Linked DNA regions of Homo sapiens: region 2 is linked to region 1. Evidence: fine-mapped expression QTL. A gene starts in region 1. The other region holds a variant in brackets. All regions are shown on one strand. Distances are between the middles of the regions.

Region 1 (4,384 bases):
TCAGAGACCCCCAAGAGCCCCTCATCTTGGCTGACTGAAAGCAGACTCTCCCCCTGCCTGCACCTGGCAGCCTTGCCAAGTCCTGGAGAGCCAGGGCAGGTGAGTTGGGCTTGATCGGTCCTGCCTGGCACTGGGCCCTCATCCACAACTTGTCTGCCCCTTCAGCAGAGCAGCTTTCCTATAGCCAATGCAGGGCTGGCCTGACATCTCAGCTGGGCAGGGGAACAGTGGGAGGTGACCAAGAGTCCCCCTCCCCAAGAGTGCTGCTGAGCTGCGCCTGCTGCCCTAACCCCAGATTCCTGGCTCCAGCCTGGCCTGCCCTGGGGTGGGAAAGACAGTCCCTTCAGTAGCTCTCTAGGTCCCTGTCTTCCTCCAATGCTGTGGTGTGTGTGAGTGGGGTGTGGAGCCACAGCCTTCACACCAACCAGCCAGGTTCCTCCCAGGCCCTGGGAGGGAAGTCTGTGCTCCTGTTCCTTCCGTTGCACATTCCTTTACAGATAAGGGCTTCAGTTGGTAAAAATGATATATGTACTCAGATCACACTAAGAGAGACCCACTTGTATTGGAGTCAAGAGGCTTAATTTTTTGATCAAGTTGTTCTAATAATAAACAAAAAATGCAATCACCAGGTGAGTGGGGCCTTGCAGACACCCTTTCTCTAGCTCCTGCTTCTTGACATATTTCTCTATTCAGAAGTGACTCCAGAAGCTCATCTGGTTCAGTCCCCAGTTTCCAGGTTTAAGGGGCAGATGGGACTGAGACCAGCGAGCCTGCCTGGAGGTTGAGGTGGGAATCTTTTGGTTTTTTCCATCTTTCTGATCCTGTTTATGAAATCAGTGTTTTTATTACACTTGCCCATTGTCACAGAGAATCCGTGGATAGAGGAAAACTGAGAGAGATGTGGATAAAGGGAAACTGAGGCAGAAAGCAATCTTTGTCTAAGCAGAAACAGAGCTACGACCCTATTGTCTGAAGTCCTTCCTTCTGCCTCTGATCCTGAATAATACAGAACCCAGGTACCCCGTAGCTTGGCTAGCATCCTTGCTCAGGGTTATCAAGACCGATTTGGGCAGGAGCTAGAGAAAGGGTTTCTGCAAGGCCCCACTCACCTGATAATTGCATTTTTTGTTTATTATTAGAACAACTTGATTAAAAAATTAAGCCTCTCGACTCCAATACAAGTGGGTCTGTCTTAGTGTGATCTGAGTACCTATATCATTTTTACCAACTGAAGCCCTTATCTGTAAAGGAATGTGCAACGGAAGGAACAGGAGCACAGACTTCCCTCCCAGGGCCTGGGAGGAGCCTGGCTGGTTGGTGTGGGGGCAGTGGCTCCACAACCCACTCACACCCCACTCATCCTGGCATCTCATAGTGGCCCCCAACCCTCTCCAAATGTTATTTCTCTAAATTCACCATATTGGGGGGGGGGCGGGGGATGGGGAGGCCCCAGGGCCCCAGCCAAGCCCTCTTGACACCTAGAGACGTGCCCCTCTCTGGAGTAGACAGCCACAGAGGTGAAAGGTGATCACCAGGCTGGCTGGGTGAGGCCCCACACATGATTCTAAGACCCTGGGCAGTTTCTGGCTCCCTGCAGTCTCTTGTGGGGGACTCTAAAAATGCAGCTTACCCAGACGGTGGCCCTGCTCCCCTTTGGGGGGCAGCCTTCTCCTGGTGGTGGAAGGCCCAGGAGGCTGTGCTGAGCCACCCCATCCTCTCCCGGGCAGGCAGGCTGCGTGGATGGTTAGCAGCTTGTCGCTGGTGTGGATGGAGTTAAACCTTTTCGGGGACTATTTACTCCTGATCCTAAGTGACAGCTTGGGGAGGGAGAGTCACGTGGCCCTGAAATCCCCGGGGGAGCCGATGGAGCATGCCCAGCTGCCTCTGCCTGGGAAAGATGCTGGATCCTGCAGTAACCACAACAGCATCCTCTCCCTGCGCCAGGGACCTGCCAGCCGGAGAGATGACTGATTAGATCAGATTAGATCCGGAGCCCCGCTCTGCAGAAGGGGGCCCCAGGGGCGGGGGAGGAGGACCCCAGCTGGCCTGAGCTGGGGGGAGGGGTGCCTTGGGGCTCGCAGAGTTAGAGCTTTCCAGCGCGGGGATCACACCTCAGAAGCCGGTGAGTCTGTTTTCATGCATCACATAGATGAGGTGGGAGGAGGAAGGCTGGGCTCTGGTCAGGGCTGGCAGCTGCCTGTCTGCCGCGTGAGCCTGGGCTGCTTGCACTGCGGAGCACTGGCTTCCCCATCTCTCATCCTTGGCAGCCTTACTTGGGGATCATGGATGCTGAGAATGCTAATTATAGCCCTCCCTGTGCCCCCACCCCCACCTCCAGAGTCCCCTGTCAGGGCTGATGCTGTTTAAATTGATTACATTTGAATTGCATCTCCTGGATGAAGGCAGCGTTGGGGCTGGCAGCTTCCTAGGGTCCAGCAGGGGTCCCCCACGCAAGCTAGCACAGAGAGGCCAGCCCACCCTCCCTTTAATCTTGCCAGCAGGAAGGAGAGAGGGAGGGGGTCCAGGGTCAGGCTCAGGTCAGCCCCAGGGACTCACCTTCCTCAGCGTGGGGAGGGGTCAGGGTGTGTATCATTCTTATGAGTCAGAGGTTGGGTCGAAGGGTGACAGAGGCTCTTGGATTCCAATTCCTAGGACGCATCTGAGCTCTGGGGGTCTCAGATTTAGTGGGGAGCTCTTGAAGGAGCTGGAGCCTGGTATGTGGTAGAGGAGGGCAGGGAATGAGGGGATGGCATTTATAATGATGGGACCAGGCTGCAGCCAGCTAAGAGCCTCGAGGTATTGTGTGAGGAGTCTGAGGAAAGGAGGACAGTTGGGGGACTGGCCAGAGAAGGGTAAGGAGGGCTACAGTGGAAGGGGAGGGAAGCGGGGCGAGACAGGAAAGTGGCGGGGGTGGGGGAGAAGGGAGAAGAAGGGAGAAGAGGCTCCTGGGAAATGCTCTTTGAGACAACAGGCCAGCCAGGGCAGGGAAGGGGGCTGTGGAGCCTGGGAGAGCAGAGATGGAGAACCGGGATAGAGGGAGAGCCATCCCCGGGGCACAGGGGTGGGGAGGGAGAGCTGCAGGAGGGTGGAAGGTGGTGGGGAGGAGGCTGGAGCTCAGAGCTGGTGTCAGAGGAGGTTGCAGCCTTCAGGGATTGGAGGCTCTTCCCAAAGCCCTGTAGACCCTTTACCCTCAATCTGATCACTTGAGTGGTGCACTCTGCTGAGGGTCTCCTGCATGGTGGGGCAGGGTCCTGGCTGGCAGGTATCTGCCTGAGCCCACTGTCTGGGCAGGTGCGGGGGCACTGCGGGCACTTGCCCTACAAATCTCCCAAATCCTGTTTTCCAGGCCACCCTGGAAGAGTATGAAACTGAGGAGGGCTCCTGTGGCTAGGACGGTTCAGTCGCCAGCTTTCACCCCCGAGCAGCTGCATTTTAGCTTCAGCAGGACATGAGCAGACCCTGCTGGTGGAGGGGAGGTGGGAGCGGCTAGGCTCTGGCCTGTCTCCAGGTTGGGGTGGCAGGAGGGGCTGAAGGCACCCCTCCTGGCACTGCCACTGGGCTTTCCTTATGGAAACAAGCGAGTTTCTGTGTCTTTGCACAAGGGCACAGAGTGCCGAGCCACAGATATGAATTATTAAAAGTCATTGGTTTTCCAATCAGCGGCGAGGTGATAAATGTGTTAGCACTGGTGTGTAATTAATCCTGGCAGGCTGCTGCACACAGGCTGCAGACAATGGGGGTCCCCACCTGCTTTTTTTTTGCTGGGCTAGGCTTCTTTTCCTCCTTCCTAGGAAGGTGATGGTGCAGGACGCCTTACACAGATAATTACTTTGAATGTGTCTGCCTGGATTATTGAGTTGGATTATTTCTGCTTGTAAATGAAATAATTACTGATCCCTCAGTCAGTGAGGGAGGCAGCCACCTTGGCTCCCGGGCTGACATCAGAGCCCCCACCTCGCCCAGACCCAGCCTGCAGCCTCGGGCTCATAGAGCGAGCTCTCTTGGCCCAGGGGACTGGCCTAGGCCAGAGTGAAGAAGCCGCAACAGCAGATGGGAGCGTGGTGTCAACTGGTGCTGAACAGGCTGCGGTTCCGTTCTCCGAGCCAATTTCCTCATCGTCTTCCTCACTGCCTGTTGTGAATTTGATGAGGTCATTGGCACTGGTCTTGGCGCACCCATGGGGCCCCCCAGAGGAAGGTTGGAGCTGTGCCTCACAAAAGAGCTGCAGGATTCGCACTCCCCTGAGCTCTGGGGTGAGGCGAACGGGCTCAGGAAGCCAGGGCTTAATGAGGGGACTTGAGCAGGCCAGTCTCCAAACACTTAAAGCACATTCAGAGAGGAAAAAAAGACTATATTTTGGGAGACATTTAGAGTAACTGGGAGC
Region 2 (4,384 bases), 73 kb after region 1:
CCGGCGCTGCTCATTTGCACACATCTGCATAGATTTGCATGTGTCCTGCTTGTAGATACTTTTAGATTTCCCCCAAATCAGTTGCCTATTTTTAAAGGATAAAGAGGGAATTTATCTCTTCTTGTTCTTGCTCACCTTCCGTCTGTATCCTCCAAAGACACTAAAATAATTTCTGCAACTTTGAACTATAAACAATAACTGTGGTTGCATAGTTTATGCAGATATGAAGCAGTTCCTTGACTGACAATGTGTTTCTCCTCTTAATCTCTATTACAATTCCTAGTGCTGCTCTCCAAACTTCTGAGTGGCGCAGAGAGACATTAAGGTAAAAAAATAAAAATAAAAACAAACCCTCTAGCTGAACAGCCAGGCTCAAATTGCTTAGAAAGCTTCAAGAATTAGTTCACTCTACCTGGACAGAGCAGTTAGAGGCAGTTCCATGGATCTGAAGACCACCTTCCCACTGCTTCCCATCCCAGGGCTAGGGATGCTGTGACTATCTTTGTCTGCTCTCCTTCCTCCAGGAATAAATAACAATATCATCCCTCCCCCAGATCCCAGTTCCTCTATTGGCCCGCCAGGCAAATATTTCATAATGTGGGCTCATCCAATTGGGCATCGTGCCAGAGCCAAACGCCTCAGGTTGCAAGTGTGCTCCAATCAGGCGGGGCGGCCTGGGTGGGACTAGAGGGCTCTCCTTCTCCACATGGGAGGCGGCAGCATTACTCAGGTGGATGGCATCAAGGTGGGAGTTGCTACTTTCTCAGGGCAGAGTAGAAGGGACAGGGCTGTCCATCAGCCAGCTCCGGCTGGCTGAGGCAACCCAGCACTGAAGGGGTTAAGGCCAGCCAGCATGTGTGGCTGTTAATGATTGCTACCCACCAGGGACCTGGTGAGTATTAAAGGAAAACCTTCTCCCTACTCCTCAGTGTGAAAGGAGTCAGGGCTAGAGGCAGCAGAGGGAACAGCAAAGAAGAGCCGGTGAGTAAGTGGTTATCTGTCTGGTCTATGTTTGTCTGGGTGGCTCTGGAACAGAAAAGGAAGCCTAGATATACCCATTCTATCAGCCAGAGTGGGCTTTTGTTACAACCAGATACAAATTCTCAGCTTGAGGCCAGATTCCAGTATCATTACTATTTATTAGAAGGAAATCTTTAAAATTATCTTAGTCCAAGGGAGTGAACTGCTCAGCGCAGAAGCCAGAGATACAAACCATTGTCTGTCCTGATGTCAAGACAATGGTTTTGTGTGGCCACCCTGAGCACAAAGCTGGAGCTGCTAGTCTTCCTCCTTCTCTCTGAGCCATTGTCTCCAGAGAGGCGCTCGGTAGCTCTGGTCAGAAGCAGCGTCGGCCTCTCTTGTGGGCCGATTTCCTGGATGGGGCCACGGGAGGAAGGTGGAGGGGACAGAGCCACAGGAGACTGGCATGGCTGTGCTCCTGGTTTTATCCTTTTACTTAGCAGAGTCAGGTGTGGTGAGATGTAGGGTAAGACAGAACCTGGCGGGGGTGGGTGCAGAGAGTTGCGGGGAGAACTCTTCACTCATTAAGAAGACAAGGTTGTCAGTTGAGAACAAAACTGAAATCCAGGGAGAAAGAGAACCAACCTTTTGCATTTAGATTTCTGTTGCCCCCATTCCCTCAACTTCCCCTTCAGGTCCCTCATCCCTTCAACCTCCAAAACATTTGTGCTCTTTGACCCTGGCACCTTCTAATGACAGTTTTGTGGAGGGGGTGTGGACAAGAATTCCTTGGCTTGGAGGAGGAGGTGGACGCACTGGCTTTTCTCAGCTGATGCTATCTCTCTGTGTGTGTACTCATGAATGCCCACGTGATTTAAAAAAAAAAAAAAAGAGGGAGACTGTCACCAAAAAGGAAGTGCTTACTTTACTCTCCTCCCGCCCCCAGCTAGGAGCCCTTTTGTTCCCTTGCCTCTTTCTTGGGAGGAAAGAGATTCGATGACATAGTGATGCTAGGTTGAACCTAGGGAGGAACTCGGGGCTCTGGAGAGCCTATTAGGTGGGAACAGGGTGCTCCCTGTGCCAGTTTAGAAAGCAGATTCGAGCGATAAGGTAAACCCAACCCCCTTGTGGCTTTCAGCTGTGGTGCTTCCTCTGGCTGGGCTGCCCATGGGCAAACAGAAACCAGGCACA[A/G]TAGGGGGAAGGTGCCAGCCACTAGACCCAGCAGGGCGAGAGCAGAAGCAGCCAAGTTTCTGGGCATTTGAGGCCAAGAAAGAAGGGGAAGTAGAGTATAGGAGAGGAACGGGGATACTTGTTGTGTTCTGCCTCATATTGAGAGTCAGCCACAAATGTGACTAGCCAACCTCCATCCCTACACTCCCAGGAGAAGTATACTGGGATTGTTATTTCCAGGCAGGGCAGGGGGGCTTCATGGGGGATGCAAACTGTGCAGTTGCCCCACATGCTTGGTTTAATGCTCTGCTATTGCTGTCTTGAAATCCTTAAGTTTTGCACAAGGGGCCCGCAAATTGTGCAGCTGGTCTTATTTCCTGGCCCAGCCAGAAGTTGCAGGTGCAGAATAGTTGCTCATATACTCCAACAGGTGTAGGCAGGCTCACCTGTTACTCAGGTGTCACTTATGGAGGCCGGCTTCTGTCCCGGCTGGCACCTGTGCTGCATCCCTTTCCCTTTCCTCCTCTCTGTTCCCCTCCCAGAGTACTCTATTCCTCCTTGTCACAGCCTCCATGCCCAGTCTTTCTTCACGGCTGCTGCGTGGCAGGACAGGGGTGGGAACAGCAGTGTCCCTTGTCTGACTGCCTCCCTGCCTTCCTTCTCAGGCCCTCTCTTTTCCTTATCTGGGCTATAGCCAGCAGGTTCTCTAGGCTAGGTCTAGGCCTAGGAGCACCTCTTCCGTTCCTCTGAGATTGTCTTCCCTCCCCTCTGTAAGCCCCGGTTATCAGTGGATGCTCTCTGGCACCTGCTTCTTGTGATGTCTGCTTAGCAACAGGTTGTTTACCTGTGATTTCCATAGGATCCAGGTCTGGATGAGTGCTGGGTGGGGAAGGGGAGGTGCAGGGAAGGAAGAATCCTAAGCCTGCTGTCCTTGGTGGTACTTCCTCTACCCTGTCCTCCTCCATGCCAGCTTCTCCTGCTCTGGACCAAATGGCCCCACAGAAGACCTCCCTTTCCTCCTCCTCCCCCAAGCGTCAGCTAGAGGTTGGCCAATCCAGGAAGGAAAAGGAAAGCAGGAGGGAGGAACAGGTCCTCTGTGTCTCCAGCCTCCTCCCCAACTCTTCTTCCTTCTCCAACTCTTCTCTCCCAGCCTCCTTAAGCTGCTGGATGACCTTTTCCAGTGTTTCCTACCAGGCCAGTGCTGTTAGTAATGATACTTTCAAACTGTGCAGAGGAGTCTTAATGCATGTGATTTAAAAATAATGAGCCTGGCCAACACGGCGAGACCGTGTCTCTACTAAAAATACAACAAATTAGCCAAGCGTGGTGGCCCGTGCCTGACGTTCCAGCTACTGGGGAGGCTGAGGTGGGAGAATTGCTTGAGCTCAGGGAGCGGAGCCTGCGGTGAGCCAAAATCGCACTACTGAACTCCAGCCTGGGATACAGAACAAGAACGTGTCTCAAAAAAAACAAAAACAAAAACAACCAAAAAAAAACCAACAACAACAACAAAAACAACAAAAAACCCAAAAAAACGAAAACAATGGATTGTCCAGATTAATTCTGAGTGAACTTTGGAGTATATCATTTCTGATTTTTAACTTTTTGTTGTTGACAGCAGATTTTCCTTTCTTTTTAGCTTAGTTTAGGTCTATGAGGGAACTTGTATTTACTGAAGACACTGAGCTCATCAGCTGGTGGAAGGATACACTGGCTTAGAATTGCATTTCATAGAATTCAAAACTATTAGAACTGGAAGGTGGCTTAGAGAACATCTAGCCTAGTGCTGTCCAATAGAATGTTCTACAATGATGGAATGTCCTGTGACTATTCTGTCCCGTATGGTAACCACTAGCTACTGTGGCTCTTGAGACACAGTGAAATGTGGCTAGTGTAACTAGGAACTGAAATTTTAATTTTATTTAATTTTAATTATTCAAGATAGAATACGGCTAGTGGCTATCAACTTGGTGCAAATTTAGGATAGTGCTATTTATTGTATTCCCTTATTTTATTAATGATTATAACATTAGCCACTACTAAACAACTCAATGTGCCAGGCATTCTTCTAGAGGTTTTAAATATTTAGTCCTCCCAGCAACTCCAGTATCGTTACATGTTGCAGGTGGGGAAACTGAGACCCAGAAAGGGACAGTGACTCAGTAGTGGTCAGTTACCAAGACTCCTGACTCTGAGACCACCGGCCTTACCCTTTTCCTTAAGGACAATCCACACGCTGTCCATTCCTTGCCAT

Evidence for each region.
Region 2: its variant is fine-mapped to the expression of PLEKHA6 in whole blood (TOPMed, PIP above 0.99).

The regions. Positions count from the first base shown.
Region 1 is chr1:204,357,432-204,361,815 of GRCh38, reverse strand. PLEKHA6 (pleckstrin homology domain containing A6) reads left to right here and starts at 1,887. Exons shown (of 23, transcript NM_014935.5): 1 at 1,887-2,122. RefSeq lists enhancers at 1,999-2,634, 2,750-3,676, 3,677-4,384.
Region 2 is chr1:204,284,702-204,289,085 of GRCh38, reverse strand. All of the region lies in intron 1 of PLEKHA6 (pleckstrin homology domain containing A6), which reads left to right. Among named protein-coding and RNA genes, the nearest start is that of GOLT1A, 73 kb to the right of the region's middle. The variant A/G (reference allele first, on the strand shown) is at 2,152.